2 separate regions of the Homo sapiens genome follow, and region 2 is linked to region 1. Evidence: fine-mapped QTL for protein levels in blood plasma. Region 1 holds a variant in brackets. A gene starts in the other region. All regions are shown on their forward strands.

Region 1 (2,902 bases):
AGCCAGGATGGTCTTGATCTCCTGACCTTGTGATCCGCCCACCCCAGCCTCCCAAAGTGCTGGGGCAAAAGGTACTTCTAACATGGCGGCAGCAAGAGACAATGAGGAAGACGCAAAAGCGGAAACCCCTGATAAACCCCTCAGATTTCGTGAGACTTATTCACTATCACGAGAATAGCAGGGGAAAGATGAGGCCTATGATTCAATTACCTCCCCCTGAGTTCCTCCCACAACACGTGGGAATTCTGGGAGATACAATTGAAGTTGAGATTTGAATGGGGACACAGCTAAACCGTATCAGTATCTGCTTTTGGTAAGCTGCATGACCTTGGGCAAGTAGCTTTAACTTCTCAGAGCATCACTTTCCTCACCTGAAAAGTGGAGATGATAAGAGCTGATTTGTAGGGGTTTTTTGAAGATTAAATGAGATCACTTTTGGATATCACTTTGCTAAGGGGCTGGCACATAGTGGACTACCCAGCCATGCCACTGTTCCGTTCCTCCTTCTTCTTTCTCCTCCTTCCTATTCCTCCTCCACTTCCTCTCTTGTTGTTGCTATTACTATTATTATTATTATTATTATTACTAGCTAGCCAGGCTGCCTGTATTTCTCCAGAAAACCATTACCCATGGTTTAAAAAATCCACCCTTGGCCAGGTGCGGTGGCTCACGCCTGTAATCCCAGCACTTTGGGAGGTCGAGGTGGGCGGATCAGGAAGTCAGGAGATCAAGACCATCCTGGCTAACACAGTGAAATCCCGTCTCTACTAAAAATACAAAAAAAAATTAGCCGGGCGTGGTGCTGCACGCCTGTAGTCCCAACTACTCGGGAGGCTGAGGCAGGAGAATGGCGTGAACCTGGGAGGCGGAGCTTGCAGTGAGCCGAGATCGCCCCACTGCACTCCAGCCTGGGTGACAGAGTGAGACTCTGTCTCAAAAAAACAAAAAAGAGAGAAAAGAAAAAATATCCATCCTTGCTTCTACTCTCTTAGAGGCATATAGAGTTGCCCATATGAGAAGCAGCTCAATTACGATTGTTGAATGCATGGCCTCATCACTTTTGGTTTGGAGCTCACAGTTGAAACCATGTTTGTCGCCTCTGTCCTCCATGGATTAATATGTGCAGCCTGTCTCTCCTAATCAGATGTCACTGTGGCCTCTCATGGTATCCCGAGTAGTCACACTCTCCAGAGAATGGCCACCCCTCCAGCCCTTGGGGTACTCTCCTATGGGCCACTTCAAAGGGAGTTTTGCCCACTCCTCATAGCCTGTATTTTAAGTCAAATCATTTGAAATAAGCCCTCCAAACTGGGTGGAAAACCTCCCTAGGCATTTTTATGTGAAGTGGAAACAGAAAATCTTATTTTTATAGAAAGACTCCTCTGGGATCTCACTATCTAGTAGAGAAGACTGGGGCAGCCCTGAGGTTTGTGTTACAAGAAAGGCTTAGGAGGGAAAGGCGTCTAGGCCAGCTTCCTGGGAAGGTCACATAAATTCCTGCTTAGCATTCAGCGTAGGCTGAGGGCACACCTTCAGGAGACAGGAGCAAACAGACTCCAGCTCCTCTTCCATATTCTTCCAAAGCAGTTTTGGTGAGTACCAGGACCCACTGCTGTTGAAATGCACACCCACTCACCTCACAGTGTGGCCCAGAAGGAACCAGAACCCAATAGGA[G/A]AGGGGCAGAGTTATAAACAACTCCACTGGCTACATCACACTGTGCTTATCGCTGCAAATATTGACTCTGGAGGATCAAACAAGTGGCCAAAAAAAACAATAATATTTTCCCCAGAGAGAAGGTCTTGTTCCAGACAGCCAGGATCAAGTCGGATGGGCAGGCAGTGACAGATGGCACAATGCAAGGTGAAGGTCTCCATGCAAGGGTGATGCTCTCACGTGGTAGGTCCCCTTGGAACTGCTATGCCCAGGGAAGGAGAGACCAGACTCAGGGTGCCATCAGGTGGTCTTAAAGAACACAGGGCATCCCATATCGTGGATCAGAGTTCTCAAAGTCAAGAGATTGCTCCAAGAGGCAAATGTCCACAGCAAAGATCCGACTCCAGGTTTGGCAAACATTGACCTGAATCCCTTCTTTGGGTCAGACATCCTCCCAGAAACCTCCAAGAACGATTCCACACAATCCTTACAAAAGCCTCATGAACTAGGTGTTCTTACTCCATTTTGCAGATGCAAAAACTGAGGCTCCTAACAGTTTGATGACTTGCAAAACAGGTCACATTGTAGGTTATCTGGCAGAGCTGGGATAAGGACTCCCCAGTAAGTGCCTCTAAAGTGTGCTGTGCTTGTTCTGGTTGTTTCGAGCTCTGAGTTCTTCTGGGTTACAACTCAAATGCCCCTTACACAGTGAAAGTCCAGAGAGCAGGATTCTGGACAAAGAGCAGGAACTGAGGTCATTGATTGGCTAAGCCTCAGGGTTGTTTACTATTTTGTAAAGATGTGGATAGAAATAATTATTGATTCTGCATTCTGGCTCTTGGGCAGAAGGCACAGTTTTGAAAGTATCGGCAAGATGCCCAATGCTGCACCCTAGCCATGCAGTGTGTGTTCCTGTGTGTGTGGGTGGGTGTGTAGGTGTGTGTGTGTGTGTCTAGTGCAATTGTGGTAGAGGTTTCATTGTGACCCTCTAAAACCTCCCTTCTGCCCAACCCCCAGACAATGATACCTTACAGCAAGAGCAAGCTTGTCCAACCTGCGGCCCAGGATGACTTTGAATGCAGTCCAACATAAATTCGTAAATTTTCTTAAAACGTTATGATATTTGTTTGCAATTTTTTTTTTTTTAGTTCACCAGCTATCATTAGTGTTAGTGTATTTTATGTGTGGCTAAAGACAATTCTTCTTCCAATGTGGCCCAGGGAAGCCAAAAGATTGGACACCCCTGCC
Region 2 (2,902 bases), not on the chromosome of region 1:
CGGGCGTCCAGTCCTCACGGCCCGGGCGACGGTCCCAGGCGGTGACCCCGCGCCAGGACCCGCCCTCCCTGGGCCCCAGGCCGCTGTGGGCGCGGGGCTGGGCCTCCGTCCCTCGGTCCCTCCGGGAAACTGAACCCGGGCGCGCGCAGATAAGAGCGCGACGGCGGCTGCCGCTCCCGGGCGACGTAAACAAAAGCGGGCGGGGACCGCGCCGGGAGGGGGACGCGGCCGCCGCCGCCCCTCGGCCCGCCCGGCCCCTACCTTCCACCGCGAGCTTCTCGATGGCGCGGCGCTCCCCGCGGCTGCAGTGCGGGGGGAGGCAGAAGCCACGGATGCTGCGGCCCGTGCGCACCCGCGAGCTCAGCACGTAGTTGGGGTCCAGGTCGTCGCCGCCCTGGGAGGCGAGACGGGAGTGAGCGCCCGAAGACCCCGGCCCCGCCCGCCCGGCCCGCCCGCAGCCCCGCACCTGCAGGTTGTCGGGGTTGAGGTCGGTCTTGTGCTCATCGCTGGGCTTGTAGCCGCCGTGCCGGTCCTCGATGATGGGGTCGAAGAGATCCTTGAACACTTCGTAGGACTCCTCGTCGCCCGCCACGCAGCCCACGGTCATGATGTACGGGTGGCCTGGGGGAGGGGGCGCGGGACGGGGACAGTGACGTCACTGCCGGGCCCGAGCGCGCTGCTGAGGACCCTGCGGCTGCGCGGGGGGAGGGGGGGCCGGGACCCCGGCCCCGAGGGGTCGCGTACCCGGGTTGTCCACGCCTGTCTGGATGACGTCGTCCAGCGTGAAGCCGCTCGGCGTGCTCTTGGCGCGCAGCTCCGCGTACAGCTCGGGGGTCAGCACCTTGGCCATGTGGTTGTTGTGGGCGCTCAGGTCGGGGAACTCGTCCTCGGCCGGGAAGCGCAGCTTCAGTGCGTTGTGGCTGTTGGAGAAGGGCATGGCGGCGGCGGGCTGCGGGGAGACGCGGGGTCAGAGGGGACCGGCACGCCGGGGTTCCCGGGCTCCCGCGTACCACTCAGGCCCCCGCCGCCGGGCCCCCCGGCGCCCCCCGGGACGCGGCCAAGGTCAGCGGGGTCCGCAGCGCGCGCGGGGAGCGCCATCATCGCCGGGGACCCCCGGCCGGTCCGGCGCGCGCTCCAGGCGACGCGCCCCCTTTGCACGCAGCGCCCCTAGCCCGGGCGCGGACGCCCCCGGCCCCCGGGCCCACTCACCGGGCGGCCGGGCGGGGGCGGGGGCGCTCCGTCCGTCGGCAGCTCCCGGAGCGACGCAGGCGAACAGCGGCCGCTCCGCGCTCCCGCGGCTCTTAAGGGGCACAACGCGGGCCGCCCATTGGCGGCTATTTATAGCCCATTCATTCCATTGGCCCGCGCCGCGGGGTGGTGCCGCCGCTTTGTCCGCCGCCCGCAGCCCCCAACACCCTGGCCGCCCACCCGAGCTGTCCCCTCGCTGGGACCCCGCGCAGCCTGCCCAGTCCCCCGCCCAAGACCTCGAGGCCGAAACCTCAGGTCCTTGGATATCTGGATCCCCTCGCACGCCCTTGCCTCTGGGCGGGAAACTGAGGCGGAGAGCCTCCGGGCACTCGAGGACGCTTGGGTTCATCCGCATCCTCGAGCCTGCCCGCCTAGTCCAGCCAGCCCCCGCGGCGGCGGCGAGGGGCCGGGCGAAAGCTTTCGGGGCTTCCGCAGCAGGTACGGCCCCCGCCCCACCCCCGGCCAGTGCGAGCTGGCCCGGAGCCGCCGACCTTCCTCAAGGTGCCCGCAGGCGTTTCCTGGGCGATCCTGGTGCAAAGCGAAGGCGCGCGGGAAGCGCAGTCTGGCTGCGGCCCAGCCCGGGGGCACCCGCGGTGCCCTGACCTTGGACAAGTCCTGGGTCTCGGGGGGCTGCGAGCCAGAAACCACGGGGACGCTGTGGCCTTAAGAGGCCGCTGGCAAGTGCAGCCTCGGAGTTTCCAGACCCCAACCCTGGGCCCTCTTCGCAGGGGACAAGTTTACCCGACCCCCAAAGGCAGTCCCCGGAGACTTCAGGCAAAGATGGGAGGAAACGCTAATAAACAATAAGCATAAGTGCGATTAAAAAAAAAAACTGATCTCACGAATAACCAGAATCATGCAAATTAAGCAGTGACTCCACCTGCCCCTACCCCCAACACTCCCAGATCGACCCCAGCCATTGCTGGCTTTGAGCTGGAATGCGGGAAGACAGGCGTCCACACGCTGCCTGCAACTTAAATTGCTGCATGCTTTTTGCAAGATAATTTGGCAGAATCTATTAACGTTAACAATGTTCGAACTCCGTGACCCAGCAATCTCCCCTTCTAGGAATGCAGCCCTTAGAAAGGATGTCTCAGTTCTCTCCACTAATGGACCAAGAGATCTGTGGAGGGAAAAACAAACATAACTGGATACAACCCGATGCCCCATCAGGCGGGAGTGGCCAAGGGTAGGGAGGCATCTGCTTGCTGTGGAATATTATGCAGCTGTTAAGAGGGGGAAGTGGAGGATGTGGGGTTAATATCCATCAGGGACCCTCATCTGTTGCTCTGTGAATAAAGCAAAGAAGGGGGGAACTCTTATCTGTGGGTATATTTGATACAAATCCCTCCAGCAGTGGCACAATGAGCACCTAACAGGTGCCAGCCGCTGGGGATACAGCAGGCAGCGAGGTACACAGCGCCTGCTGCTGGAAGAAGACTGGCCATGAGCCAGCAGCCCAACAAACCAGATGACATCAGATCGGTGCTGCTGGGGCCAGGGGGACACAGAGCAGTGGCGTTCCAGGTATAAGGGACCCCGAATAGGTGCCTCAGAGCAGAAGGCACCAGAGCCAAGGCCCAAAGGCAGGGGAAGCCTGTTCGCCTCTGCCTATGTGAGCATCGGTGTGGGGGCCTTTTCTCCTGTCTCATCC

Direction of the effects. Positions count from the first base shown, and alleles are read on the strand shown. Strength reflects both the effect of a copy and how common the allele is.
For the plasma level of the protein whose gene starts at base 1,274 in region 2, G is the high allele of the variant in region 1 and A is the other (weak association).

The links. PIP is the chance, under the fine-mapping model, that this variant and not a neighbour inherited with it causes the effect. The UK Biobank Pharma Proteomics Project read protein levels with antibody pairs (Olink). The fine-mapping took linkage between variants from a reference panel, not from the people measured, so its PIPs are less certain.
Region 2: CKB starts here. The variant in region 1 is fine-mapped to the plasma level of the CKB protein (UK Biobank, PIP above 0.99).

Annotation. Positions count from the first base shown.
Region 1 is chr2:216,614,026-216,616,927 of GRCh38, forward strand. No RefSeq gene overlaps it. Among named protein-coding and RNA genes, the nearest start is that of LINC01280, 8.5 kb to the left of the region's middle. RefSeq lists a silencer at 1,181-1,475. The variant G/A (reference allele first, on the strand shown) is at 1,676.
Region 2 is chr14:103,521,557-103,524,458 of GRCh38, forward strand. It overlaps CKB (creatine kinase B), which reads right to left and starts at 1,274. Exons shown (of 8, transcript NM_001823.5): 1 at 1,210-1,274; 2 at 745-949; 3 at 467-621; 4 at 262-394. The coding sequence starts at 937. RefSeq lists a silencer at 103-152 and an enhancer at 1,516-2,401.